Regions from separate parts of the Homo sapiens genome. Here all the other regions are linked to region 1. The links come from fine-mapping of genetic effects on gene expression. A gene starts in region 1. Each other region holds a variant in brackets. All regions are shown on one strand. Distances are from middle to middle.

Region 1 (5,076 bases):
CATAATTAACTTAGTCAAATTCCTACTGATAGTCTCTTGTTTCTGGTTCCCACCGTGGTTTCGGCAGTGTTGAATAATACCCTGTGAAATATTTTGGGAGGGTTTTACCATATTATTTCATCAGGTTATATTCCTGGAGGTGGAATTTCTGGGTGAAGGGTTATGAACATCTTACATTTCGCTTACATTGACACCCAGATTTTGCCAAATTGCCCTCTGGAGAGAGTGAATAAATGAGTCCCCTCATATCCAATAGTGAGTGCTCACCACTTATCACATCCCATGCTAAGTGCTTTAAATGTGGTAACAGATTTCATTTTCCCAATAGTCCTGTGAGGTGTCCCCAACTTACAGATGAGAAAACTGGGCACAGAGAGGATTAATTCTTTGTCCAAGTTTTCCAGGCTGGTAAACAACAGAACAGGGATGAACATTTAAGGAGTCTCGTACTGGATACCCACTCCTAACCACTGTGTACCTCTATCAATAGTATATGAAAGCAGAAACGAGCTGTGATGCCTTGGCCCAGTGATTAAAACCTTATCTATAACATGCAGGTAATTGTGGCACCTATTGCACAGAGTTGCTGTGGGAACCAAATGAGCTCATGTAACATCTTCAGCAGAGCACCCAGCACATCGACACACTAAAAAATGCGAGGAGGTGTTAGATCTTTTATTATTTGTGAGACTGGACATTTTAAAGTTTTATTGTCTGTGATTCTTCAATGAATTGCCTGTTTATATAATTTGCACATTTTTCATTGGATTTCTTAAATTTAACTTCCTTTTTTTGTACCAGGACAGACTAGTTTGTTTATCTAGGTAAGTCAAAAGCAGAAATAAGGGTTACAACTTCTCTTACCTTCCACCACGTCTCTGGGCAGGCACACTGCATCTAACCACCGTGCACACCCTTAATCGCTGCTTGCTGGTGCCTGACATCCCTTCACAGTCACTGCCAACGGCCCGTTTCCATGTGTAAACTGATGGATGATGTGGCTGGCTGTCTGTCTGACATGCTGACTCCCAAGGCCAAAGTCTTTGCTCTCCCCTGCTTAGTGCAGACTTTAGATGGAAACCTGCCCACAGCACTAACTTTGCCCGCATTCAGGATACAACCTATTGGTCTGGAGACACAAGATTTAATCTGGAGACAGACTGCTTCCCATTGAGTCTCGGCCCAGTGCAAGTTCTGGGAAGGAACGTCTTTGTATATATGAGGGACGTATGCTGCCTTTTTAGGAAACAACAGTTGATATCAGAGGGGACTTCGTAAAGGCATGTGTCTCTCTCCATCTCTGTCTCCATCTATGCATATTTCTAACCATCTCTCTATGTCTCTGTCTGTCTCTCTCTCTCTCTCTTTGAGTTTCTTCCTCTCTGTCTACTTCTCTGACTTTATATTTCTCTCCTCCATTTGGCCCTACTTTGTTTTAGTCTTTGCCTCTCTCCTTTCTTCCTTCTTTCAAGGAATGCATTAAAGATAATTTTTAAAAACAAAGATACCTCTGAGTAGCAAAGAGTCTGCTTCACTGCATGAGAATTCTGATTCAACATTAAATGTATACCAGTATCTACATGCCTACATGTTCTCATTCTATGTCAGTATTTTGATTTGACTTAATTAAATTTAACTTAACTCTCTTGAAATCCCAAAAAGTAAACATGATTATCTCCCATCTCATTGGTTCAGAAAGTTAGGGAGTTTCAGAAGCTTATTCTAGTTTATCAGCAATGGAGCCACAGTTTACACCCAGATGTTTCTAGATCCCAAGCCCGAAGCTCCTTCTGCCATGACCCTTCCTATTCTCCTTTAGCCCAGAAGCATTTGTAAGTTGCAGCTGGAATGAGACAAACAAGATCATTGCTCACTACCAGATCAAAGTGAGAAACATCATCTGTGTAAAGGGACAGAGTTATGTTTTAGGGATCAAGCCCCAGTGGGCTAAGGCTCCCCCAGTTTCCTGCCCACTGAGGCTCCCCCGGGCCAGAGACCCCCGCAGTCCCCACTTACCCAGGAGGAAGAGGATCCTCAGCATGCTGACCCCCAAGTTCATGCTGGCGCTCTGCTCTTGGCTCCTGGCTCCTGGCTGCTGGCAGCGCAGGCACAATGAGCCATGTGACCCAAGGCTCTGGGGACAGGACAAGACCCACGTGACTGATGGGGAAGGAAACCACTGTCACAGCCAGGAGGCTGTTCAGTTCCTCTCAGCCTCTCTGAAGACAGGGCTGAAGGAAGCCCCTGTCATTCTGGACTCCACCAGAAGCTGGCTGTGATTAGACCCATTGTACATGCTGGGGTATTATACCCAGTGTTCTCTCCTATAATCTTCCCCACAGAGTGTGGGAACAAAGCTCGGTAAGGTGCGGTTTCTTGCCTAATGACCCATGCTAGTAAGTCTCAGAGAGGAATGTGGGCAAAGCCGGTCTGCCCTGCAGTCCAGCCCTTGCAGTAGCCTCTGCCTTGGAGCAGAAATAGGAAATGCCCCTCCAGCCAATAGTCCAGCTCGGTCACTGTTTTTGTGCCATGGGAGCCTCTGAGTCTAGGAATGCCTATCACTCTCTTCTCAGAATAAGATTTTTAAATCCCCAAACTAAAATAGATAAGGATCATAGTAGAAATCAGTAGTATTAACACACAGTTATCAAAATATTTTGTTAAACTTGTGAAGTAGAAATATACATGCTTATTTATCCACACAGTAAATAGCAAGATCTGGCAGCAGATGAAACAGCTACCACCATCTCGACATGGTGATAAATGGAATCGATATTGAGAGATACCTGTAACAGCTGGAATGTGGATGGAAAGACCTGTGATTCCTACCAGAAATAAAGTTACTGGGTGGTAATGTTTCTGTGGTTCGTTTGCCACACTACTATTAGAAGAAGATGCTAAGTGTTCCTTAGAGGTTAGAGAACAGAGATGTAATTTTTTTCCCATCCAAGTTTACAGGCCCCATGTCCAGGTCCTTAGCCTGGAGGAACTTTGGTAGTCACACAGGCTCAGCCAGCAGGCTGAAGGCCTTATGCTCCTGTACTCCTTTATACCTGCACGTTGTCACAATGCTTAGATGTTCAGCCAAAAACCCAAATGTGCAGGAAATGTCACTTTTTAAAATATAAATCAACTTAATGACAAGTCTTGAGTCCCCCACCCAACTGAGCTGGCAGAAATCGAGCTCTTTTCATTCTTGGGCTCCCTCAGTCAAATCCCTAACGGTAGCAGCCAACACCGTGAGCACTTGCTACTGAGCCCAATGCCATCTTAGCATGCAACCTGTCCAAGTCCACGCAGCAGTAAATGTGAGAGCTGGACTCGAAACCCAGGCCTTTGGCTGGCAGCCTATGCCCCTCAGGCTGCATGTGCCCTCTGTGTACAGGTACCATCCCCTGCCAAGGTCCAGCCAGAGGCAGTCCGATTGCCCTGGTGCCACAGATGCCCCCTGGGTTCTTCTGCATGGCTGCTGTGGCTCCTTCTGAGTTTCACATAAATAATGGACATGAGAGGAGAAGGCTGGTCATGAGAGAAGCAATTGGCTTCATCTGGGTGCCTTCAAGTTCCATCTGTCCACACTTTATTCATTTGATGAAATTAAGATCAGTTTCTACCTGCACCAAGAAACATACTCTCTTATTTCTCCTGGAATATGTGGAGTTTTCTTAATTTTGCCCCAGTTCATGGGAACATGTGTAAGAAAAATATTTCACTTTCCTCTAAGTGTATTGAAAGAAAATGCCAGTGCAGACCTGACAATCTGTAGACAGTGGCTGGGGACGGTGGAGCTACATTCAGGCCAGGCCCAGGGCTTCCAGCCACACCAGGCAGTTCTGTTTTTATATGAAATCAATAAGTTTCAAATGTCGGCAACTGATTTCAAAATACTTTCGCATGGGATGAGTCAACCTAAACACCAGCATGAACTTCTGCTCCCAAACACCTCTCCAAACATCCTTGGGAGCTCGACCTGTCCTACATACTCCCAGGAGGGGAAGCATCTGCAGCTACTTCTGCTTTCACTCTGCCGTAGCCTCCGAGTCTGGAAAATGCAGTCTGCTCCCTGCTTAGACAGGCAGAGGCTCAAAACGCCCCGTAAACTAGAATCTCACGAGATGCCCTGGCACCCAGCCACGGCACCTTGGCAAGATGGTGTGTGTCTTGTTGGCGTGGCACAATGCACCCAGAAGAGCGGATGCCCCACCCTGTACCCCTGTAATGAACGCCCAGTTCTGACCGTGAGGCTGCTCCTGGCACTGGCTCACACTGGCCCAGGAGCTTGTGAGGGCAGGGCCCAGGGCACCTGGCCTAGCACCTGACACAGTGCAGGCTCCTAGCGGTGTTTGTTGAATGAAGAATTCAATTCACCCCATCTATTTGGGAGGCTGAGGCAGGAGAATCGCCTGAACCCGGGAGGCAGAGGTTGCAGTGAGCCGAGATTGCGCCACTGCACTCCAGCCTGGGCGACAAGAGTGAAACTCTGTCTCAAAAAAAAAAAAAAAAAAGAAGTCGTTTCACTTTCTTATCTCATGCTCAGCCGGCCTAGCCTCCAGCCCACCTGGCAGGAATATTTTCCAGGTCATCTAGGTGAGGAAGGTCACTGCACTGACAAGCAGAAAAGAATGAGCCCCACTCCGGCAGCTCTGACATCCTGCCCCTCACTCGGATGTGGGGCCTCTTCCAAGGCCACCAAGCCTGGGACTCTTCTGTCCTTAGCACTGCACCCTCAGGACCAGCCAGGGAGCTCGTAGAATTCATGTCTCATGTGAACGCCTTTAGTGCAAGTCACAAAAAACTGCCAAACACCATCATTACGCATCAGATTTTTACAAATTTAAAGATAGGGAGGATTCAGCACGCAGATTTGTTTATTGGCCTTACATAGAACTGTGCACCCAACAATTAGAAAATAGCCATTCAATTCAGCATGCATGCAACATTTATACCCCAAAACGGTCTCACACTGGGCCATAATACAAGTCTCAAAAATTTCAAAGAAAAGGTGACATATAGACCATATTTTCTTACCACAAGGTAATTGAATTAAACGACAGTAACAAAAATACATGATAGAAA
Region 2 (5,076 bases), 180 kb before region 1:
TGAGAGTTCAGAGTAATTGAGGTATTGAAATAAAATTGCTTCTGTTATTTAAAAGGTCATTATCGTCTTCAGCTAGATATATGAGGACTATTTTCCACTCTAGTGAGCCGTTCTCTCAGGCACAATTAGCATCGCTTGAGCAGAGATCTGCTGGGGAGGCTCCCACCCGGCAGCCCCCGCCAGAGGCCCCAGGCAGCCATTAAGACCCAGGGAGCACAGGGAAGCAGAGGAAAGCCTCCGACACCCAGAATCCCGGCTGCCTAGGGAGAGCCACCACTGCCCAGCCCACACCGGCTGTGGACTGGTCCCTGCGCAGGGGCTTACTGTGCAGTTCTGCCTCATCCTCAGAAAAGTCTTCAAGGATGCCATCATTGTCAGAGCATTGTGGGTGAGGAAACTGAGGCCCCAGGTTGGCCACATGCAGTGAAGCAGCAGAGGGTGCAGCCAGCAGGCCCAGGAAGGGAGATCTGCACTGAAAGCCATGCCCTGAGCACGGAGCAGGCCCAGACAGGGGCCTGACATGTGCTGGTCACTTTCACCAGACCCCTGAGCCCTTCCCCGCTCAGGGCTCACATAGCATTGCTTCAAGGATCCAAATCAGGTACAAACCTCAAACACCTACTAGGATGTTCTACTATAAAAACCAAATATTGCAGCTTTTCTCATTCAAGCCACTTCAATCCCACCTTATCATTGAGTTAGATAAATAGAATGGTCTTAATTACAAATTAGATACCTAATTTAGTGACTAATTTAGTAACTAAATTTTATCCTTGGTTATCATTAATTGAATATATCACAATTTCTAAATGTCCCTCAAAGAGAACATTGACTTCCAAAGACATCTTCATTGCCACAGTGTGGGACTTCGTGCTCCTGAAAGGCGAGGAATGGCAATGACAGCAGCCCGGGCACATGAGGGGTTTTCACAAAGCTCGTAGAAAATGCTTATGATGAAAAAACTATGATGCATTTCAAATTTTTTGCATCATAATAAAGTCATAATAACTCATTATAACATTTTTGAACAGCATCTAGTTTGAGACACTAAGAAGGATCAGACATCAGTTTGAAAACCACTGCTCAATGAAATAAAAGAGGATACAAACAAATGGAAGAACATTCCATGCTCATGGGTAGGAAGAATCAATATCATGAAAATGGCCACACTGCCCAAGGTGATTTATAGATTCAATGACATCCCCATCAAGCTACCAATGACTTTCTTCACAGAATTGGAAAAAGCTACTTTTAAGTTCATATAGCACCAAAAAAGAGCCTGCATTGCCAAGTCAATCCTAAGCCAAAAGAACAAAGCTGGAGGCATCACGCTACCTGACTTCAAACTATACTACAAGGCTACAGTAACCAAAACAGCATGGTACTGGTACCAAAACAGAGATATAGATCAATGGAACAGAACAGAGCCCTCAGAAATAATGCCACATATCTACAACTATCTGATCTTTGACAAACCTGAGAAAAACAAGCAATGGGAAAACGATTCCCTATTTAATAAATGGTGCTGGGAAAACTGGTTAGCCATATGCAGAAAGCTGAAACTGGATCCCTTCCTTATACCTTATACAAAAATTAATTCAAGATGGATTAAAGACTTAAATGTTAGACCTAAAACCATAAAAACCCTAGAAGAAAATCTAGGCATTACCATTCAGGACTTAGGCATGGGCAAGGACTTCATGGCTAAAACACCAAAAGCAATGGCAACAAAAGCCAAAATTGACAAATGGGATCTAATTAAACTAAAGAGCTTCTGCACAGCAAAAGAAACTACCATCAGAGTGAACAGGCAACCTACAAAATGGGAGAAAATTTTTGCAACCGACTCATCTGACAAAGGGCTAATATCCAGAATCTACAATGAACTCAAACAAATTTACAAGAAAAAAACAAACAACCCCATCAAAAAGTGGGCAAATGACATGAACAGACACTTCTCAAAAGAAGACATTTATGCAGCCAAAAAACACATGAAAAAATGCTCACCATCACTGGCCATCAGAGAAATGCAAATCAAAACCACAATGAGATATCATCTCACACCAGTTAGAATGGCAATCATTAAAAAGTCAGGAAACAACAGGTGCTGGAGAGGATGTGGAGGAATAGGAACACTTTTACACTGTTGGTGGGACTGTAAACTAGTTGAACCATTGTGGAAGTCAGTGTGGCGATTCCTCAGGGATCTAGAACTAGAAATACCATTTGACCCAGCCATCCCATTACTGGCTATATACCCAAAGGACTATAAATCATGCTGCCATAAAGACACATGCACACGT[A/T]TGTTTATTGCGGCACTATTCACAATAGCAAAGACTTGGAACCAACCCAAATGTCCAACAATGATAGACTGGATTAAGAAAATGTGGCACATATACACCATGGAATACTATGCAGCCATAAAAAATGATGTTTTTCTGTATGTTCTTTGATTGCTCCTTTGTGTGACAACAATTTTATTATACAACCTCAAATAGAAAGATAATTCAGTCTTTAAAAAAAAAGAAAAAAAAATCCCTTTGAGAACAACATGAATTTTGCTAAAATTGAAGTAAGAACAAACATCAAATTTATTGTGAGGTTTGGGTAAAAGAATGGTGATATTATCAATGCTTTAACAAAAGTTTATGAGGACAGTGTCCCAAGGAAATCAGCAGTTAACAAATGAATAACTCGTGTTGAGAAGGGATGAAACGATGTTGAGGATGAAGCCTGCAGCAGGAGACCATCCACGTCAGTTTGTGAGGAAAAAAATTCATCTCGTTTGGGCCCTCGTTGAAGAGGACCAATGATTAACAGCAGAAACAAGAGCCAACATCATAGACATCTCCACTGGCTCAGCTAATACAACTCTGAGAAAAATTAAAATTGAGCACACTCCACTCCATGGTGTCAAAACCATTGTGATCAGCAGACAAGAACAGAGTTTTCAATGAACATTTTAAACAAGTGCGATCAAGATCCTGAAGCATTTCTTTGAAGAATCGTAACAGGATATGAAACATGACCTTACCAGTATGATCCTGAAGACAAAGCATGATCAAAACAACACCTACCAAGAGGTGGAAGTGGACCAGTCACAGCAACAGTGGACGGGTCAAGAGGAAAGGTCATGGCAACTGTTCTGCGGGTTGCTCAAGGCATTTTGCTTGTTGACTTTCTAGAGGGCCAAAGAACAATAACATCTGCTGATTATGAGAGTGTTGAGAAAGTTAGACAAAACTTTGGCAGAAAAACACCCGGGAAAGCTTCCCAGAGAGTCCTTTGCCACCATGGCAGGGCTCCTGCTCATTCCTCTCATCAAACAAGAGCAATTTTCTGACAGCTTTGATGGAAATCATTAGGCATCCACCTTACAGCCACGATTGGGCTCCTTCTGACTTCTTTTTCTTTCCTAATCTTAAAACATATGTAAAGAGCATCCATTTTTCTTCATTTAATAAGGTAAAAGACTGCACTGACATGGTTAAGCTCTTGGGATCTTCAGTTCTTTAGGCTGATTAAATGGCTGGTATCACCATTTACAAAAGTGTCTTGATGTTGATGGAGTTTATGTTGAAAAATAAAGTGTGTATATATATATATATATATATATATATATATATATATATATATAAAAATTCAATTTTCTCATAAACTTTTTGAAGTCCCCTTGCATTTATAGGGCACTGGGTCTATGAGAGGCCATGTGCTGTTTATGATGAAATGACTCTTAGGAAACATGCACCCTTTGAAAGCAGGGACTCAAACAGGTCCTTACACACCCATGTTCATAACCTCACTATTCACAACAGCCAAAAGCAGAAACAACCCAAATGTCCATCCACAAATAAATGGATGCGCAAAATGTGGTTGTACATCCAATGGAATATTATTCAGCCTTATACAGGAAGGAAATTCTGATGCATGCTACAACATGGATGAACCTGGAGGACATTATTCTAACTGAAATAATAAGCCAGGCACAAAAAGATAAACCCCATATTGATTTCGCTACAATGAGGCACTTAGAATAGGCAAATGTATAGAAATAAAACCATTCTATTGTAAAGATACATACACGTGTATGTTCATTGCAGCACTATTCACAATAGCAAAGACATGGAATCAACCCAAATGCCCATCAATGATAAACTAGATAAAGAAAATGTGGCACATATACGCCATGGAATACTATGCAGCCATAAAAAGGAATGAGACCATGTCTTTTGCAGGGATATGGATGAAGCTGGAAGCCATTATCCTCAGCAAACTAACACAGGAACAGAAAACCAAACACCACATGTTCTCACTCATAAGTGGGAGTTGAACAATGAGAACACATGGACACAGGGAAGAGAACACACAACGAGGCCTGTCAGTGGGGCACGGGAGGGAGAGCATCAGGATAAATAGCTAATGCATGCGGGGCCTAATACCTAGGTGATGGGTTGACAGGTGCAGCAAAGCACCATGGCACATGTTTACCTGTATAACGAACCTGCACATCCTGCACATGTATCCCAGAACTTAAAATAAAATATTTTTTTAAAAAAAAGAAACAGAAAGCAGAGTGGTGGTTCCTAGAAGCTGGTGAGTAGAGGGGGATGAGGAGTTATTAATGGGGACAGTTTCAGTTTGGGATGATGGAGAAATTCTGGGATGGATGGCAGAGGTGGTTGAACAGCAATGTGATGCATTTAATGCCACTGAACTGTACACTTGAAAACAGTTAAAATGGTAAATGTTATGTAAGTTTTACCACAATCAAACAAACAAAAAATAAAAACAGGGAAACATGTATCCTAGTGGGGGCAACCCGGCAGGGGCACATGCAGTGTACTGGAGCGCTCAGAGGGTGGATGCAAGGTCATCTGTTCTGCATGGGTCTGACTTGGCCTTGTGCATGTTTAAAAGCTCCACTTCTCTCTGTTTCGAGATGTCAGTGTGTGAGCTGCAGAGTCACACAGTTACTCAGAAGAAAACACAGAGCCTGTCTGAACATCACAGATTGCAGGGCAGACAGTGATGTGGTGTCACTGGAGGATGAAAGGCAACTTGATATGGATGAAGAGC
Region 3 (5,076 bases), 21 kb after region 1:
AAAGGAGAAGCGTGGGAGGTGCTCCTGGGAACACTGGAATTAGGGAATGGGATCCTGGCCCCAGGGGGAGCCTAGCCACAGGCGTCTCCACAAGGGCTGTCCAGAAAGACACCATACATGGCACACAACTCCCCCCACCCCACACGTCATGTTGTGTTGTCATCCATCTTCTCCTCTGGACCGAGAGTTCTCCAAGGAGCAGGGATGTGTCCGATTCATTTTTGTTTCTGCTGCACACACAGCAGTGCCTGGTATACAGCAGAGACTCAATAACTGTTAAATAAATGAATGATTGAATGAATCAGAAAATAGCAGAGAAGCCAAAGCCTACGCTGCAAGGTGGAATCTTAGGGAGGCCCACAGACTGTCACACTGAGAGGGCCAGTTGGTAATTTTTAACAAGAGTTTTAAAAATAACTGTGCTCTTTGATATGTGAACTATATTTCTGTAGGTATTTTATAAAAACGTAACCTCAAATATGGAAAATAACCCTATGTACAAACGTCCTTACAATAGTGAAAAGTCAGAAATGACTCAGATGTTCAAAGAGGAGCATTCCAACTCACTTGACAGGATATAGAGCAACTAATAAGGTAATTTTTACAAAGTAATAACATGGAGAAGCCCATTTGGGGGGAAGACAGTGTACAAAATTTGTTTACACAGCAAGCTCACAAAAATACATGGCGAAGAAAAAGGCTGCAATGAAATATAATAAAATGACAATAATAGCTGTATCTGGGCTGTATGCCTAGGAGAGGATCAATGTCTCCTCCTCTCAATTTTCTGTATTTTTCAAACTTTTATTAACGTCACAGCAGTGATCCCACTTCTAAAAGAGCCCTCAGCCCTGGTCCAGCTCAGTCACTACTCAATGCCTGCCCCTGGCAGGACGTGCCATCTGACGGGTCAGATGGCCCCAGGTGGGGCTTTTCCAGGAGAACCATCCCTGCGTTCAGCCCTGCAGTGACTTCTGCCCACGGAAACCTAAATCCAACCTCGGTGGAAATGTGCAGCAGCTGTATGTAAGTCATGGAGCTGCACTAAGCTCCGTGTATTTGTCCCTTGCTTTCGAGATTTTATTTCATTTTATTTTATGCAAGCTCCATTTGTGCCAAACTTCTGCCTTAGGTCCCAATCGGGACAATTATCTTCCACGTATCTACATCCTCTGTCATTTCCACTGGAATTTAGTCCTGTCACATCCTGCTCTGAGCTTTGCCTGCTTCTGAGCAGTTGGGAAGGGCTTTCTCAAGGGTCAAACATTATCCTCTAGCATGGCCTTTGTGGTACAGGCGTGGCTTTATCCTTTGCTCTCCCCAGAGATTTGTCTGGCAGATCACCTGTGCTCTAAGCTGTGGGGCCTATTCTCGGTCATCTTCGCTGCAAGAAGCCTAGAGACATGAGCAGCTCGTGCCGGGGGAGCTGATGCACAGAACGAGCTCTTGAGTGGATCATGAGCTCTAATTAAAGTTGGGGGTGGGAGGGATGCTAAGGGAGGAAGCAGAGCCCAGGATCAAAAATAGACAGGCAGGAGAGAGCGAGCAGTGTTTGCTTAGTGGAGGAGCAGCTGTGGAAAAAACAGAGGATGCTTAGCTCTGTCCTAAGCTACTGGGGCTGAGATTCTAGAGGGGTCCTGGGCTTTGGAGCAGAGAATAATGGCTTTGGGTCCTGGCTGTATCCCTTACCAGCTGTGCCTAGGAGCAGGGCTCGTGGTGGCCTCTTGGTGCATGGTTAGGACTTTAGTAGGGCTCTTAGTGCATGGTTAGGACCTCCACCCAGAAGCCAGCCTGCCTGGGTCCCAGACTCTGTGTTCCCATTTATACACAGTGTCACCTTGGGCCTGTCACATAACTTCCTTGGGCCTCAGTTTCTTCATCTGTAGGATCAGATTAATGAGAACAGTAAGATGTGCCTGGCACTGAATGAGCGGGCACCTGCAAGGTGGCACGGCCCATGTGTGCCACAGGCGGAGTGTTTGCTATTGGATCTAGTACAGTGTTTGGCACACACAGGAACACCTCACCCTAACTCTCCCAGCCTCAGTCCTCCCTGACTTCCTGGGTGCATCGGAAGCAGACCTCATCTGTAGTTCCGTCCTTCTGAGTCCTCCTGGCCCCAAATCCAGCTGTCCCTGCTCTCGGCTTCTCAAGTGGAATGGTTCTAGATCTGTGGTGGCCTTCTTGGAGCTGTCCGGCCTAGCTCTCATCTCCTATACCCCTACACCCCTCATCAAGTGAAAAAGGGGTTTCATGGACCCCCTGCACCAGGGTTGGCTACAGCCTGGGCACTAACAGCCTTCTCTCCAGACACAGACAGCAGAATGCTGGTCTCAG[C/G]TACTCTGCATCCTCACCTGGCCTTGCTTTCCCCCAACCCCACTCCTGGGCCCTGTAGTCAAGCAGCACATGGGGCTTACAGCTGGCTCTCAGGCTGCATGGGAGCAGAGCCCCCTCACTGGCTCTTCCTTTGTTCCCTCCATCTCTCCCATCCTTGCCCCCAGTGACAGCACAGCAGGCACACAGTGGGCAGGACACATTCCGCCACTCCACTATGTCCTGGCCCATGCAGCTGCAAAGCCAGGTAAGGTGTGGAATCCAGGATTATGGACCCCCAAAAAGAGCCATGATGAAGCCAGGGCTCTTCCTGCTAGAGCTGCCGGAGTGGAAGTCCACGAGTGGACATTCCAGGAAAACTTGGCCCTCAGGCCTCTGCCTCCTTCCCAAGGCTTTCACAGGAACAAACAGGGAATTCTTCATTCTTCAGCCTGGGCAAGGAAGCCCTTCTCCTTGGGACCCCACACTCACATTGTCTTTGCTGCTCTCCAGAAGCATTATTTATTTTATTTTATTTTATTTTATTTTATTTTATTTTATTTTATTTTATTTTATTTTATATGGCGTTTCACTCTTGTCACCCAGGCTGGAATGCAATGGCGCAATCTCAGCTCACTGTAACCTCTGCCTCCCAAGTTCAAGCGATTCTCCTGCCTCAGCCTCCCAAGTAGCTGAAGCTATAGGTGCCTGCCACCACTCCTGGCTAATTTTTGTATTTTTAGTAGAGAGGGTGTTTCACCATGTTGGCCAGGCCGGTCTCGAACTCCTGGCCTCAGGTGATCTACCCGCCTTGGCCTCCCAAAGTGCTGGGATTACAGGGGTGAGCCACCATGCCTGGCCAGAAACATCATTTATAATGGTAGCCACTAAAAACGTACAGATGAGCAAATAAGCAGATGTTGGGAACAACCTGATTCACCTTTTCTGAAAATCTATTTTCCCATTAGGAAGAAAATTGATAACAGTTCCAAGATGGACTTAATAGAAGCCACTGCATTGAATAATTTTATCTGATCATTTTTTTTCAGCATATACAAAATTACACAAAAGAAAAAAGAAATCTATTATATAGCTCCGTGTACAAAGGGCTTGCAGCTAGGGTCAGATCTTATTGCTTTTGGCCAAAAGCCCATGATAGAATTTAGACTAAAGAGTGTATAAGCTGTGTTCCTCAGAGTGGTTCAGGGTTACTTGGGACCGCACTAGAAAGATCTTTAGCATTTCAAAGCCTGTTCATAAAAGGAGTCACCATAGTACCCACCATATTGATTTATCCGGGCTGTCTAAAAATCCCTTTAGCTCTGATGTTTTGAAGAACCACTGCATACAAAGAGTGGATCCAAAAGTGAAGAGTCTGTCTGTATCAGCAGTTAGGAACCAGCCTTCTGTGGGATTGATTTCCCTGAGTGCTACTCAGAGTAACAAGGGATTCTGGGTGTGGATCTAGGACAAGAGACAATATGGGAATTCCACTGCTTTCAGGATGGAGGTAACATCTATCCTGGCCTCTAACGTTGAGTTGGGTTGGGGAAAAAATCTTTTGATAGTTCAAACATGTTCCATCCTTCACCTTCAAAAGCATTTCCCCTTGCAACTGGTTTCTGTGGTGTCTCAAAACCATGAGTGCCTTCTCTGTGTTCCATCGCCCATGGGCCTGCTGACTCCCCAAGAAAATGATTTTCATGAAAACCCCTCAAGGGAGAATGCACATGCTAGTAGGTCAGAGAAGAACTAGAGTGTGACCAGGTCCACTGGCCTGGAGCAGGTGAGGCCTGGGGTTAGGAAAGGACCTGCCCGTATCACACCATCAATGGCGGCCTGGCTCTGGTTGCTCTTCTCTTAGCCCCATGCCTTGTCAGCCCCATGTCAGGGTGACTTCTGCTTCTCTTCCGAGGAGGCCAATTTTTTCCTTTCAAAAGTGAATTTGATTTGAGAAAAGAGTAAAAGTTCACTTAGAGCCAAGTCTAGAAAAGTAGGTGAGCAGTCATGGGTGAAAGCCAATGAGGTTAAAGGAGTATCAGACCAGGCATGGTGGCTCACACCTATAACCCCAGCGCTATGGGAGACCAAGGTGGGAATACTGCTTGAGACCAGGAGTTTGGAACCAGCCTAGGCAACATAAAGAGACCCTGTCTCTAAAAAATCTTAATAATTGGCTGGGCATGGTGGCACAGACCTGTAAACCCAGATACTCCAGAGGTTGAGGTGGGAGGATCATTCAAGCTCAGGAGTTTAAAGTTACAGTGATCCTATGATTTCCTTATGACCAGCTTATTCCCCTGAATTTCATTTCTGTAGAGGCCACGCTTGAAAACTAGTCTGTGATGTATCTGAAAGAACCAATGTGAAATAGTTCTCAGGTTTGTCACCCGCCCATCCTGTCTGTCTCTCAGGATGCGCCGTGTGGCAAGGTACTGCTCTCTCATCCTTCTCTCCTTCCCATGCATGGTTCTCACCCCACCTCTGTTCATTTTCTCTCTTGAAACAGTACACACTTAAAGAAAAACACAAGTTCAATTTGATATGCTGTTACAGACAGAGACTCGCTTACCAGATCTTTGCTCTCTAGTCTCTTTTCACCAGAGTTAGCAAATATCTAATTCCCAGAGACGCAAACCAACAATTTGAGAACGGAAACCAATCTTTGTTTCACCTCTTCAATTGATCAAATACTTGCCGAGGTCATGGAAAGAAGGCACTGAAATTAAATCAAACAGCCCCAGCTGGAATCCTGGCCTTGTC
Region 4 (5,076 bases), 53 kb before region 1:
ACAACCATTTGGTAACAGTATCAGGAGGCAACCTGGCACTGTCCCTTCCCATCAGGGCTTCCTTCCCAGGGAGCACAGCTGGCTGACCTTCCAGGCCTTTCTTTTCACCTACCTGGCCAGAACACTTCCACACTCTCCTCAGTGGACTCAGGGCTGGTCAAGCTGAGGGTGGTCCCATCGGTGGGTGACTGTTCTCCCCTGTGATCTGTGAAGTAGCATTTCATGATTTGAAATGAGTGCCCAGGGTGTCGGTGCTCCAGCTGTTCAGTGAGAGTTGGCTGGGGCTGTACTGAAGGCCTCCAGCTGGCCCCAGCCAGAGTGGACACTGAGCTCCCCATGGTCGCTAAGATCCTAGCTCTACTGTGTGACCTCATCGATGGCACTGGTCTGTTCTGTGACCCATGGCGAGGGCAGAGGCTGAGGCTGGATACCAGGAGAGGCTTCCCAACATGTTCTCATTTCCCCATGGGAACTCCTTTTCTGTCTTGTGTATTATCATGGACACACAGAAACACAAAACACACATACTCTTAACTCCTTAGACACACATAAAAACACAAACACATAAACACAGAGACACTTGTATACACTTAAGCATGCATGGAACCGCTGTCTTAGTCCATCTGTGTGGCTTACAAAGGGATACCTGAGGTTGGGTAATTTATAAAAGAAAGAAGTGTATTGGGCTCATGTTTCTGCAGCCTGTACACAAAGCATAGTGCCAGCATCTGCTTCTGGTGAGGGCCTTAGGAAGCTTCCATTCTCAGCAAATGGGGAAGGGGAGCAGGTGTGTTTAGATCACATGGGTAAGAGAGGAAGGAAGAAAGAGTGGAGGAAGTGACAGGCTCTTTTCAACACTCAGTTCTCACAGAACTAAGAGTGAGAACTCTTTACCACGAGGGTGGCACTGAGCCCTTCATGAGGGATTTGTCCCCGTCACCCAAACACCTCCCTCTACGCCCACCTCTCACATTGGATATCAAATTTCAACATGAGATTTGAAGGGGACACATGTCCATACTATGTCACTCACACACAAAGAAACGCATACATGATCACTCAGACACACATATACGCTGGAACACATATGGCACACACAGTAACATAAACATATGTACGTGTGTTCACATAGACACATAACATGCTCACACATACAAATTCACACACATATTTACTTAACCACACACACATACATGCACACAAATTCATGCCAGATTAATTAACCATACATAGGCTCACATACATACAGTCAGCAGCCAACATAAAATGACCCTGCTTCCCAGTGTGGAAAATCTCTCCTTCTCTCCCCCATCTTACGTCCCCACGCTGACCCTGTTTAGCTCCTCAACCCTCCACAACCCCACCCCACCCCTCCCCTCCCCTCTCCTCTACTCACTCCCTTGCTCAGTTCCTGTGACTCCAGACACTTCACTGCTCCCGGACATGCCCGGCATCCTCCCCTCACGGGCTCTGGGCTCTCGCACTTGCTCTTCCTTGTGCCTGTTCCAGGCTTTCCCCTAGGTTCCTGTGTGGCTCTCTCTCCTTCCGGTCTCCTCTGAAACATCACCTGGTCAGAGGAGCCTGCCTGGCACCCCCAGGAAAAGAGCTTTCTTTGGCCCTACAACTCTCTGTCACCTTACCCTGCTTTATTTTTCCATGATAGCATTTACCACCCTAGGCTGTATATAATGTCTGTGTGTGTATCTCATGGGTTTACCTGTATCTGTCTTCTCCTCCTTAGATGTAAGCTTAGGCAGGTAGGGACTTCCTTCGTTCCATCCACCTCATTATATCTCTAGTGTCTAGATCAATGTTTTACATATTAACAAGCACTCAGGAAATAATGAGTAAATAGCTGATGAACACGTTGGGCTGAAAAAGGCGTTACTCCCTCTGGGAGCTGCCTCCTCTGTGCTCCCTGGATCTCTGCAGTTCCAGGGTGGTTGGTTCTCTCCCACTAGGACTCTGGGAGTTGCCTCTTCCTTCTCCATTTGCACAAACCACGCTTCAGCCTCAATCAGCCTGATAAAATGTTCACCTGCCATCTCTCTGCTCTGCAACACGCTGGCACTTCACTCATTTCCTCCAACAAGCTTCTTACCACTTCCCTCTGTGGCTAATCTCTTCCCACCCTTGGTCAGTCTCATCAACTCTATTCCTTTGAATCCCAAATACTAAACAGTTCAGATAGGTGATGGATTGAAAATAATCCCAATATTCCACAAGCAACATCAACATCCCCCACACACCCAGCACCGAGGAATACCCTCCTCTCTAGAATGTGAGGCCACTGTGTGGAGGAAGACACCACGGTGCTCTACTGAGCCATGAAAGTCACGCCTGACCTAAACAGAAGACTACGTCCCCTGGCTAAAAGAGGAAATAGTGTAAGTGCACCCTTTTTTAACAAATAAATACAAAGACTTGCCTTACAAAAACAAGAGGGGGCAGCCAGCACAGAAAATAAGTAGGTCATTGGGGGATGGAAGGCAGTTCAGAGAGAGATGACATCATGGAGAATTGTTAAGCGGCAAAGTAAACAG[C/G]AAGTCTGGGAGGAAAGGAGACTCAGCCAACAAATTATGCTGAAAAATTATATTCGCTATTTTTTTGAATCAACTTTGGTCTCACTTCATGTAAAACAATTAAGAATATTTTCATAATGGTTCAGAGCTTACGCTTTAATGAAAAATGTGTAGAAAGAAAATATGTTAACATTTGTAATTACAAGGTGCTTTTTCTCAACTTAAACAATATTAGTCTTCGCAAGCATTGAGAAACTTTGTCATCTTTTCTAATTTCACTGCTTTAAAAAACTCACTGTTTCAATTTGCATTCCTCTGCTTTTCAGTGGAACTGGAAAAAAAAGCAAATGAGCAAGCAGTTTCCAGGGGAAGAAATGCAGAGGGATGATAAATATATGAGAAGATGTTGAGTCCTACTGTAATAAGGGAGCTACAACTTAAAAATGTGTAGTATACAGTATAGCACTTTTCACCCATGAGATAGGTAAGAGTTAAAAAGATGGACAATACCCAGTGCTGGTGAGGACGTAAGGAAATGAACACTTTTATTCTCTGTTGGAACAGTGTACCTTAACTTTCTCAAAAAGTTTGGTGGTACCCATTAGAATTAAAAGTGGGCAGGCACTTCCTAAGCAGTTTACTATCATCTCTTTCCTAGGGAACAGCCACATTACATGATATGTGCATAAAATAGCACCTAGAGAAATATTTATTGCAGCATTGTGTATAATAGAAATAAAGACAGGAGACTTTCCTAAGATCCATCAAAATAAAGAAACTACAACATAATCAAACTGTGGAATACTACACCACGATAAAAAGAAAGAGATCTATACATACTGATAAGTGAATTCATGTTAAATGAAAACACAAGATACAAGGAATAGATAGATGACCCCACCTATGTAAAAATCAAACATACTCCCTCAAAAGCACTGACCAAATTCTATATTGTCTATGTATCAAAAGGCACAGAGGAGATCTGAAAATAATCACACCCAAGAGAAAACAGTGTTGACCTCAAGAAAGAGGAAAAAGATTAGGTGGGGCTGTGTGAGACCAAATTTTCCAAAGATGGCCAAACCAATCTATATCACAACCCACATGCTCTTCTGATAACACGACAGCGTCCTTCTTCCTGAACTGGGGTGGATTTTGTAACTGCCTCAATCAACAGAATGCACAGGAGTGATGTTTTGTGACTGTCAGTGCCAGATCATAAAAGATGTGACTTCCTCCTGGTTCTGTCTCCCTTCTCCTTTGGACTCAGCCACTATGTTGTGAGGAAGCCTAGGCCACATGGAGAGGCCACATAGATGTGTTCCAGGCAGCAGCCCCAGCAAAGGTCTCAATCAACCACCATATGTGTGAGTGAAGGAACCTTCAGATAATTTTGCTTCCCAGACTTCAAGTCTTTCAGCTGGGGTCCAAGACATCACAAGGCAGAGACAAGCCCTCCTGGAATTCCCCACCCACCGTGAGCATAAGAAAACTGTGAGCATAAGAAAAGGTGTTTTACACACTAGTTTCTGGGGCAATTTGTTACAGGGCATGGTAATTCAATGGACTTTGATTTTCCCTTGTAATATTTAAATATGTTCTAGTGAGCTAGTTCGTTAACCAGCATCTGTGCTCTGTGCTTCTTCCTGGCCCAGTCAGGGAAACCTGGGGGCCAGGTGAGCCCTGTGGTTTTCCCAGGACAACTTGGGAGGATGGTTCCCATTCTTACCCCATAGGAAACAACTTACTAGATTGCAATGTTTATATACGGTTGCTTTTGTAAAGGCAAAAGCTTTACAATTTGGGATCCAAACGATGTTTTCCAAAGTCCCTTGAGTCGGGTCTTTCTTTACCCAGAATCTATATACGTTCTTCCTAATCCTCTCAAAAATTATACACTGTGAACCCTCCTTAGAGATAGGGAGCTTGGCACTTCAGAGGGGTTTGATGAACCTTGGGTGGGAAAGCTGGGAGAGAAGTGGCTTCCATCTCACGCCTGGGGGCAGGGCTGCATGGCCAGGTTGCTCTGATGTTTCCTATGGGCTACTTCCCTGGGGCTAGTTTGGAGTGAAGCCCCTCAGATGGTGAGCGATTGTCCTCCTCACTCACATGGCCTCTGGCTGTTTCCGTCTATGGGAAGAGCCTCTGCCCCAGCCGCTCTGCTTGCTCCATGCAGATGTTCAGCTGAGACCACCCACAAAGGGCTCCCACCCATCCCCCTGCCACTCTCCAGTGGGTTTTCCAGCCCTGCCAGGAACCTCTGCGCCTCACTGCTGCAGCCAGCAGGGCTGGTGTGCAAACCCCCAAAAGGACCAACGCAGCACTTTCTTGGAGCTCTGACGCCTGGCCAGCTCATTGCACACATTGCATGCGAGCCCTAAACCTCATCCAAGAGGCCTGGAATATTTTCTACTCTTAACTTTTCTTCCAAAACCTACTCTTCCCAGCCTCTGTTTTTCCCAGCTGAGGAGGCTAACAGGAAATAAAGTGGCCACAGCCACAGCAGGAAGCAGAGAGGCCATGTCTCTCTTCACTTCTAATTCCAGAGCTTGGC
Region 5 (5,076 bases), 150 kb before region 1:
AATTATCCACTAACTTTGTGTGAGTCAACAGGTGGCTATTGACTTTTGTTTGAGCTACCATCAAGACCTATTGATCTAAGAGATAAATATCGACCAAACTGAGACTGAGGTCAATGCTGGCCTCCCGGGAAAATAAATCTTGATATTCACCAAAAACTGCAGATGCTAGGCCTGATATTTTTGTCTCTAAACTAATGGTCTGATAGAGGCCCTACTGAGGTCAGCTCTTGTCTTTATTGTGAATTGTTATAGGTGTAAACTAGCTTCCAAATTGACCTTGCTTCTGGAAAATTTGGTATAAAAGCTTCCAATTTCTTTGTATTTTAAATGATCAAGGGAAAACCTGTTATTTAAAGAACTATTATTGAGAATACTTCCATAAAATAAAGAATCCTTCTGAAATGCATATAGCTGCCCCAATCAATTATCTGTGAAAATTGAGAATTTCCTATGATGAGTCCCCACCCAGAGAAGCACATCAGCTCAGACACACAAACAAGTCAACAACAAAAAACTTGTAGTCAGGACCACAGCTATATTTGAAAACTCTATTGAATCTGATATTTTTTTAGTTGCAAAAAAATGCTTAAGATAGCATTTTGCACCCAAGAGGTGCACAAAAGATTTTCATGTTTAATGGATAAATGAGAGGTGGGTCCACCCAGGCTATGCACTAGGGGAAGTTGTTTCCTGAAGACTGATGACATTACACCTGAGGGATATGGATCATGTTTCTTAAATAGTGTTGTTTGTTCTCACATGCAAAGCTTGTAGGGGGCAATGAGAAAATCTTATTGTGAGAATTAAATACGATGACATGCCAAAAGCACTTTTTTGATCTATCCCTGGGACATATCAATAAAACTTCAATATATAGTTGTTTCTGTTATTAGAAGGGGTAAGAGACTGGATTAGAAACAATATGTCCTGAGTAACTTAGAGAGAACATAAGGTGGGGAAATTAAGTGTAGTCACTCTGTAGTCACTCTTAAGGTAGTTGTTAAATATCAGAATTAGAAAGAAAAGATCTAAAAGAGCCACATAAACACGCACACCCAGATGTGCAGTGCTGCACACAGTCTAGAGGACAGTGAACTCAGCCTGTCTATCTGCAGGAGACTGAATGTAACAGGTGAGAAATGGGATGCTCCAAGGCCAAGGGAAATTGATTGTTTTAGCCTTTATGCTCCACAGTTTCCAAAAGCCCACTGACTGCCAATGGCCTATTAAAATAAGCCAAAAGGCCTGCTGCTGCCTTTAAGAACCATATGGTATAGTCAACAGAGTAGAATTGATGAGGATTTTTTGATAACATGAACCAAATGGAACCCACTATATGAAAAGCCTGCTAGAACCCACAGTTCACTGCAGGCAAAAGAAGACTCTTTAAAAAACAGGTGAAGCACAGAGCAGCAAGGACAGGAGCAAGGCTGAGCCACACAGGCATTCAGGATCACATATAGAGAGCAGCTAGGCCCAGACTCCGCACTGAGGCAAAGCTTCCAATGTGCTGGTGAAAACCTTAGATTTTGGATTAAGCCCTGACTGCAACCCACAAGCTGTGTGACCTTGGGTACATCACCCATCTCTCACTTTACTGACTCTCAGAGGCTCATGTACCCAATTATGGATGTAGAATTACAGAACCTACTCAACAGGGAGGGTGTGCAGAATCATAAACAAATATCCATTGCGCTAAACACATTTCTAAACATGAAGAATACAGCAGGAATCACAGCAGACAAGCTCCCTGCCTTTATGGATCTTGTAGCCTGGTAGAAGAGATGGATGATTAATAGATATAAACACAAAATATGTCAGGGTGGGTGGTGTTTTATATAGGCTATCAGGACAGCTCCTTTATTACATGATGTTTGATCAGAGACCACAGGGGGTGAGTAATAAGCCATGGACAGATTCTGGGGAGGACATTCCAGGAAGAGGGGAGAGTGGGTACATGGGCCCTGACACAGGAACATGCTTGGTATATTTAAGGATTAGCAAGGAGGCCAGTGTGGCTGAAGGGAAATGAGAGAGAGGGATGGTCATAAAAATCATGTCAAAGAAGCAATGGGGGCTAGATCATTCTGGGATGCACTGTCCAATGTGGTAGCCACTAGTCAAATGTGTTTACTAAGCACTGGAACTGTGGCTGTGAATTAAGATGTGCAGTAAGCATCAAATAGACACTGGATTCTGAAGACTTACCACAATAAAAATAATAGAAAATATTTAATTAATAATTGCTATATTGATTACATGATTAAAT[G/T]ATAATATTTTTGATAGTTAAGTTAAATAAACTATACATTAAAATCGGTTTCATCTGTTACTTTTCAAACCTTAAATGTGGCTACTAGAAAGTTTAAATTACCTATGTGGCTCAAATAATATGGGGAATTATAGGTGACAGTCATGAGGTTGGCATTTATGTTCAGCAATACAGGAAGTTCAGAGAAATGCATTATGAAGTGCTTATCCTATTTCTCTGCACCTAGTGGAAAAAGTTTATGAATCTAGAATTCCATTCACAGACAAATTGCTCAAATGGAAAGGCAAGTAAAGGTAATGAAGGGAAAGACACTGGACTCAAAAAAAAGGAATAAATAACAAAACAAAAATTAAGTTCAAATAATTGTTTAGAATATGGTGATGAAATTAGCAAATAATGATTGTTGAAATAGAAGGCATAAGGTAAAATAAAAAAGAGTCTGACAAACAGATAAAATTGGATCCATTTCTAAACTCCAAATGGATCAGAGAAATACAGGCAAAAAAGAAACTGCACAAGTACTTCATTTTAACTATCCTGGTGGAGGTGAACTGGCTTTATGCTTTTAAATTGCACTGCCATGATGCCTATTAGGTTAAGGACTTTTTATGAGTTTACTGGCTATTTGTATATCTTCTTTTGTCAAGTGCACATTTAAACCTTCTGTCCATTTTTTGGTAGTGCTGTCTTTTTACTTCTTATTGATTGGCAGGTGTTCATATGTTCTAGATAAGAAACCTTTGTCAGGTCAGCCAGGTGCAGTGGCTCATGCCTGTAATCCCAACACTTTTGGACGCCGAGGTGGAAGGAACACTTGAGGCCATGAGCTCGAAACCAACCTGGACAGCATGGTGAAACCCCAACTCTACTAAAAATACAAAAACTAACCTAGCATAGTGGCATGCACCTGTAATACCCGCTACTTGAGAGGCTGAGGCACAAGAATAACTTGAACCAGGGAGGTGGAGGCTGCAGTGAGCCGAGGTAGTACCACTGCATTCCAGCTTGGGTGACAGAACAAGACTCTGCCTCAGAAAAGAAAGAAGAAAGAAAAGAAAAGAAAATTAATGACAAGAAAAGAAGGAAGGAAGGAGAGAGAGAGAAAGAAAAAGAAAGAGAGAAAGAAAGAAAAAGAAAAGAAGGAAGGAAGGAGAGAAAGAAAGAAAGAAAAAGAAAGAAAGAAGAGAAAAAATTAAAGAAAAGAAGGAAGGAAGGAGAAAAAGAAAGAAAGAAAAAGAAAGAAAGAAAGGAAGAAAGGAAGGAAGGAAGGAAAAATTAAAGAAAAGAAAAAGGAGGGAGAGAGGGAGGGAAACCTTTGGCAGATATATGCATAGAGATATGTCCTGCCAGTCTGCAGCTTGCCTTTTCATTATTTTAACTGTATCTTTAAACAGAATAGAAGTTCTAAATGTTAATACAACCCAGATTTCTTTATCCATTCCTTCATGTTGGTGCTTTATGTGTCTCGTTTAAAAACATCTTTGTCTACTCTGAAATTAGGAAGAAATGCTACCTTCGGGAAGCTTTACTTTGTACCATTCATACTTATGTCTATGATCCATCTCCTGTTAACTTTTGTGTGTGGTGTAGAGAAGGGGCTATAGATCTTTTTTTCATATGGATATCCAAAAAACCCGTCACCAAACATTGAAAAGATAATCTCTTTTTCACTGCACTGCAATGTCACTGTTGTCATAAATCAAATGACAATCCTATGCAGTTATGTTTGGGGCTCTTTATTCTGTTCCTTTGTCTACTTGTCTGCCCTTGTATTAATACCCCATTGTATTACTTACACTTGCTTTAATGTAGATGTCGAGAATTGGCATATAAATCCTCCACCTTGCACTCCGCCCTCAAGATTGTCTTGGCATACACACCTTAGAATAGCTTTGACAGTCTTTCTTTCTCTCTCTCTCTCTCTCTCTCATGCACACACACACAACTAACTGCTGAATAATATTAACAACAAAATAAATAATTATGTAGTTAAAAACTAAAAAATAAATATCCACGGATCCATACTGATATCAAGGAATTAGTGAACAATAAACAAATGAAAAAAGGGGGCCATTTTCCTTATAGAAGAATTCCAAATAATACATCTAGAAAGATTAAGGGAAATAGAAAATCACCCTTAGTGCACCATAGTAAAATCTGCTGCAAGCAAAATCTACTGATGAATGCAAGATTAGTGGGCAAAAGTTCAAGGAAAAACAAGATATTTGCAAGCCTTAACATATCTCCCCTAAGATTTTTATTAATTACTGTGGTGGGTTTAACATATCCACAAATTCATGACATGCCTCCCTTCTGGAGGTGGAGCTCAACTCTCCTCACCTTGAATGTGAATTGGACTCAGGGACTGGCCTCTAACAAATAGAGTCTGGAAAGGAGAAAATAGTAACTTCAAAGTAAAGAAACCTGGCAGACACCACCTTAACCACGTGATTGAGATGAGCATCACCATTAACAAGATATATTGTCGTCATGTGCCCCGATACCATGCAATGAGAAGGGAGTTCCACCTCTGTGCTCTTTGTCCCCCAAATCCGTAACCCCATGATATGGTTTGGCTCTGTGTCTCCACCCAAATGTTATCTCAAATTGTAAACCCCAGGTGTCAAGGGAGGGAAGTGATTGGGTTAGGGGGTGGTTTCCTCCCCGCTGTTCTCATGACAAGCGAGTGAGTTCTCATGAAATCTGATGGTTTTATAAATGGTAGTTTTTCCTGTGCTCACACACACCCTCTCTCGCCTGCCTCCATGTAAGATGTGCCTGCTTCCCCTTCCACCATGACTGTAAGT
Region 6 (5,076 bases), 42 kb before region 1:
TGAGCCTGATCAAAGCCAGCTGGGCAAGCAAGCTCCAGGCCTGGCTGCAGGAAGAGATACCCTAGGGGCAGGCTTGGGTGGAGAGGGTCTGTGGGGGAGGCCAGGGCAGCCTCTCCAGCTGTGGGGACTGCGCCAGGGAGTGTGGCCAAGAATTCCAACCTTTTTGGGGGAAGTTGGGTATGACTGAGGCTTCAGACACTTGAGACCTGAATTAGCTGCTCCAGCTGCTGGGAAGGATGGCCCACCCAGAACTGTCTTCTTAGCCCCATGGTTGTAGAACAGAAAACAGTCAGCATTTACCTACACCACCAACCAGGTGCAGAGCACATTTGCCTTCAAGAATACATGGATTCCAGCCAGGATGGACATGACTTGCCACAGGCAGGCTAAACCGTTCCCTTTCAGTGACTTTCTAAATGGGGTGGTAATTTCATTATGTCATCAAGTATGGTAGTCCCAGAGCAGATGATTTTTGAGCCCCTCTTCCCCATTTTCCAGGTGAATTTGCTTAAAGGTCACAGAGCTGCCGAGTTGTGTAGCAGGCGTCGGAGCCAAACGCCCATGTCTATCTACAGAGTGCAGGCTTTTTCCATCCCAGCAAGCCGGATCCTCATCCATTCCCACCTGAGCCCTCCCAGTGCCTCCCTCTGCCCTCCCCAGCTCAGGACACCTGCCCCAGCCAACAGCTCTTCCAGCCACCACCATCCATCAATTCCTCTAAGTGGCAGAGCCCCATAAAGAACCAGTGTGAGCCCAGACTTGGTATTACCATGTCTCCATCCTGCAAAAGTGAACACAGCTCTACAGTGGTTATTTCAAACTGTGCCAGGCAAATGCTAAGCACATATTATAAATTATCATTAATTGAGGAGATGTTTCCTTTTGGGCAGCAGAATACCTCACTGGTTCTGCGGACAATCGCTGAAGCTTAGAAGTTGCAGTACATCCACAAGTTTTCTCAACTGGCCTGGGCCCAAATATGACCTTGCAATGTTCTCCCTCATGGCTTTCAGATGACAGCACAGGCTCCCCACTCAGAATGCGGCAGTGGAAGAGGGGCTCCCTTCCAGCCCCCACGTGATGTCTGAGAATGTGACCTGCCCCCGCCTGCAGGTTCCAGGTGTCAAAGTCACCTCCTGTCACCGTCCTCTGATTTTGTTCTTTTCTTTCTCCCCTTTTTACCATCTCTTCCCTAATGTTGGGTGAGTCATTACCATGCCCATTTAGAAAGTCACTGAGAGAAGATGCATTTAGCTTGCCTAAGACCATTTCATGCCCTTCCTGGCTGGAATCTATCTTTCCTTGAAGAGACATTGAGGGTTTTAAGTGGCAAAACTTCCCCAAACAATCCCTCTTTGGACATTATTTTCTTTCTACAAAGCTTCACTCCCTTGAAACTTGTGGAAACTCTTTTTGAAGGCAGATCCCCTTTCTGCCAACCAGCTCTTCTGCCCAACTCCTTCTCTAGGAAGTGGTGTCAGTGGCCTTGGGCTTTTTCTTAGGAGGAGCGCACTAGGGTTCAGGGGCATAAAACCCTGCATGTGTTTGTCTACAGCTTTGCTCATTCCTCAGGGCTGAGCTGTAGATCCACGGCCACCATGATGAGCTAAGAGTTTCTGGATTCAGTGCCTGCTGTTGCTCCTGGAGATTTGTATCCTGATTGAAGGCTGGTTCCATATCTGTTCACCCAGGTAGTGGGGATAAAATTCATCTCTAAGCGAGCTACTCCCAAGAAAGAGAAGAGCAATGAATGCACCCTGGCCCTCCCCTGCTGACCTTCTCAACACCCACGGAACCCTGAGCCTAACATATGCCTGTGCCTACTGCTGTGGTCACAGCGTCCCCACCTTCACCTCACTCAGACATTGGGCTGACTTTGATCTCTAATCTTAGCTTGTTTTCACCACCTTGCTACCCTGTTTGCCTTTCTGGTCTCACAGTTCATTCTGTCCATGTTGCTCTCCTATCTGGGGGCTCTCTCAACCAGGTTCACCCACAGAAGCAGCAGAAGCAGCTCTGACCTCTCTGCCTCCAAGAGCAGCCTGGCATAATCGGAGCCAAACCTGAGGTGTAAACTCAAAGAGGCCAGAGAGGAACATGCTTCTGTTCCAATGTCAGTGCTCCAGAAACCCTGGAGACCAGCCTCCCCAGTAACACTAATGCTCAGACTTCTTCCACAGTGGAAATGCCACATGCAAACTGCAGTTTTAGGAGTAAAAATTCTATCTGCCCCTAGAAAAATTCTTGTGTCTATGGCAAAAGAATATACACAAGAATTTTTGTTACATGTGTTTTACAGTAACAAAAAAACTAGAAAAGGCACGCAATAAAAGACTGACTAAACCATTGGAAATGATTTCAATTAGGAAAAAAAATAGCAAAATGTTTAAAAGGCAAAAAACATGGGTGAGCATGTGGGAAAAGATATTGCTTTAGACTGTTAGAGGGACAGGGAATTGATAGGGATTCAGTGAGGAAGATTTAGGCAGTAACTAGTACAACTTTTATTTTCCATTTCTCCCTATGGTAATTATCCTAGCTAGTTTCCCAACCTCTTTTTTTCTTT[T/C]ACTTTTTTTTTTTTTTTTGAGATGGAGTTTTGCTCTCGTTGCCCAGGCTGGAGTGCAGTGGTGCAATCTCAGCTTTCTGCAACCTCTGCCTCTGGGGTTCAAGTGATTCTCCTGCCTCAGTCTCCCAAGTAGCTGGGATTACAGGTGCGCACCACCATGCCTGGCTAATTTTGTCTTTTTAGCAGAGGCAGGGTTTCACCATGTTGACCAGGCTGGTCTCAAACTCCTGACCTTAGGTCATCTGCCCTCTTCGGCCTCCCAAAGTGCTGGGATTAGAGGCGTGAGCCACTACACCCAGGCTCAACTTCTTTTTGAGCAAACATAGTCATTTAAATTTGGGAAGAAAATAACCCATTTTATCTGGATGTTCAAATTATTTCTATAAAAATATTCTTTATAGTTGCTTATACTATTTGGATATTTTTAAAGGAATAGCAACAAATGTTTACTAAGCACCTGCTCTCTGCCCAGCACTGCCCTGGCAGTGAAAAAGACAAAATCCTTGTCCTAAAGAAGCTGGCATTACTGTGGAGGATGAAAAAAAAATAGATGGATGCAAGCATAAATACATAACATAATGCCAGTGGCAATAAGTGTCCTCATGATAAATATAGCATGGTAAGTGAATATATAACTAAAGGAGTGTTCTCAGGGGAGGCCTCCCTGCAGAATAATGTGGGGGAAGAACATTGAGTGGAGAGAGTGATCTGCCATTCAAGAACCTGGAGAAAAAGCTTTCCAGGTAGCAGAAACAGCAAGTGCAAAGACCTAGGCTAGATATGGCATTTTTAAAGCCTAGTAATTCCATGTGACTCTTTTATACTTTCCATTTGCCTGCCAAGGATTCCCCTCTGTTCACCTTTCTGTTCATTTCACCTGAAAAAATATATATATATTTACAATAATTGTTTAAGTCCTTAACTGCTAATTTCAACATCTGGATTATAATGGGTTTACTTCTATTGTCTGTTTTCTCTTGTTAAGAGTCATGTTTTCCTGCTTTTTTGATTGCCTGGTATTGTTCCTTTAAACATTGTGGTTGATGCATTATAGAAACTCTGGATTCTGTTATCTTCCTTTGAAGAGTGTTGATGCTTAGTTGTTCTATGTTTTCTTAGATTCTGTATTTGTCTACTAAGCATCCATTAATTACAGGGCCAAACTAACAGCTACTGTTGTATATATCTGCCCTGCAGTCCAGTTTCCCTAGGTGCCTGAAAAATCTTATCCCTGGCTGGGCACAGTGGCTCACAACTCTAATCCCAGCACTTTGGGAGGCCAAGGCAGGCGGATCACTTTAGGCCTGCCTGGCCAACATGGCAAAACCCCATCTCTACTAAAAATACAAAAAGTAGCTGGGAGTGGTGGCACGCACCTGCACGAGAATCGCTTGAACCTTGGGTGCAGCCTGGGTGACAGAGTGAGACTCCATCTCCAAAAAAAAAAAAAATTTATCCCAAACTTTCTCATCTATCCTGAGTGTGTGCCCCAACCACCTTCTTTACCTAACTCTCACACACCAAGCCAGTATTTCTCCTGCCCTAAATCACTCAGGGCCAGTCATTCAGACAACTGGAGACCAGAGCCCACCAACCCTATCCACACTAGCCAGTACTAAGTTGCTTCCCCTTTCCTGCCTTGCTTTTCCCATGGAAAGCTCAATAAAGGCTCTGGGCCATGCTTTTCTCTGGCTCTTTCTACCTTTTGACCAAACCTGGTGCTTCCTCCCTGTGGCCTCTTGGGACATGGTATGTCCCCTTCTCTTAGGAAGTGTAAGTACTGTAATAAATTATTCCTTCCATGACATGAGCTCTCTGTGTTGTCTTTCAGTCACCTTTAAAATTAAGTCCTGGGCACAAATCATTAGTCTGGCAAGTTACATCACTGGTAAGTTACCTTGATTCTAGAGAATCCTGGTTTTAGGCTGTGTTGACTGGGTCTATTTCAGTTCTGTCTCTAGTCCTAGAGCACAACCCCTAGTCTTGGTTTTCATGGGAAGCCAGCTGTGCTTACCAAGTATATTAGCGTTCTCCAGAGAAACAGAACCAACAAGATGTGTGTGCGTGTGTGTGTGCACGTGTATATGTATGTGTGTGTGTATATATATATATATATATATATATATATATATGTATATATAATATAAAGTGGTTTATTTTAAGGAACTTGCTCACACAATTATGAAGCTGGCAAGTACAACGTGCAGTCTGGGCCAGCAGGCTAGAGACCCAGGAAGAGCTGAGGTTGCAGTTCCAGCCTGAAGGCCACATGCTGCAGAAGTCCCTCCTGCTCGGGCTTTGCTTTGTCTGTGCCTTTGAATAATTAGATGAGGCCCACCCAAGTTACGGAGGGCAATCTGCTTGACTCAAAGTCCACGAACTTAAATGTAAATCTCATTCACAAACACCCTCACAGACACATCCAAAATAATGTTCTACCAACTATCTGGGCATTGTGGCCCAGCCAAGTTGATACATACAATTAAGCATCACACTAAGTCCTTCTATTA

The links.
Region 2: its variant is fine-mapped to the expression of TMEM273 in whole blood (TOPMed, PIP 0.98).
Region 3: its variant is fine-mapped to the expression of TMEM273 in whole blood (INTERVAL, PIP above 0.99).
Region 4: its variant is fine-mapped to the expression of TMEM273 in blood mononuclear cells (TOPMed, PIP above 0.99).
Region 5: its variant is fine-mapped to the expression of TMEM273 in whole blood (TOPMed, PIP 0.91).
Region 6: its variant is fine-mapped to the expression of TMEM273 in whole blood (TOPMed, PIP above 0.99).

The regions. Positions count from the first base shown.
Region 1 is chr10:49,186,278-49,191,353 of GRCh38, forward strand. It overlaps TMEM273 (transmembrane protein 273), which reads right to left and starts at 2,114. Exons shown (of 7, transcript NM_001288740.3): 1 at 2,017-2,114. The coding sequence starts at 2,059. RefSeq lists enhancers at 3,943-4,102, 4,563-4,782.
Region 2 is chr10:49,002,297-49,007,372 of GRCh38, forward strand. No RefSeq gene overlaps it. Among named protein-coding and RNA genes, the nearest start is that of MIR4294, 19 kb to the left of the region's middle. The variant A/T (reference allele first, on the strand shown) is at 2,304.
Region 3 is chr10:49,206,846-49,211,921 of GRCh38, forward strand. No RefSeq gene overlaps it. Among named protein-coding and RNA genes, the nearest start is that of TMEM273, 21 kb to the left of the region's middle. The variant C/G (reference allele first, on the strand shown) is at 2,338.
Region 4 is chr10:49,133,695-49,138,770 of GRCh38, forward strand. FAM170B (family with sequence similarity 170 member B) reads right to left here and starts at 327. Exons shown (of 2, transcript NM_001164484.2): 1 at 113-327. The coding sequence starts at 224. FAM170B-AS1 (FAM170B antisense RNA 1) reads left to right here. Exons shown (of 6, transcript NR_038973.1): 2 at 1,962-2,387. The variant C/G (reference allele first, on the strand shown) is at 2,544.
Region 5 is chr10:49,041,027-49,046,102 of GRCh38, forward strand. All of the region lies in intron 7 of VSTM4 (V-set and transmembrane domain containing 4), which reads right to left. Among named protein-coding and RNA genes, the nearest start is that of MIR4294, 58 kb to the left of the region's middle. The variant G/T (reference allele first, on the strand shown) is at 2,270.
Region 6 is chr10:49,144,210-49,149,285 of GRCh38, forward strand. FAM170B-AS1 (FAM170B antisense RNA 1) reads left to right here. Exons shown (of 6, transcript NR_038973.1): 5 at 1,573-1,691. Among named protein-coding and RNA genes, the nearest start is that of FAM170B, 13 kb to the left of the region's middle. The variant T/C (reference allele first, on the strand shown) is at 2,567.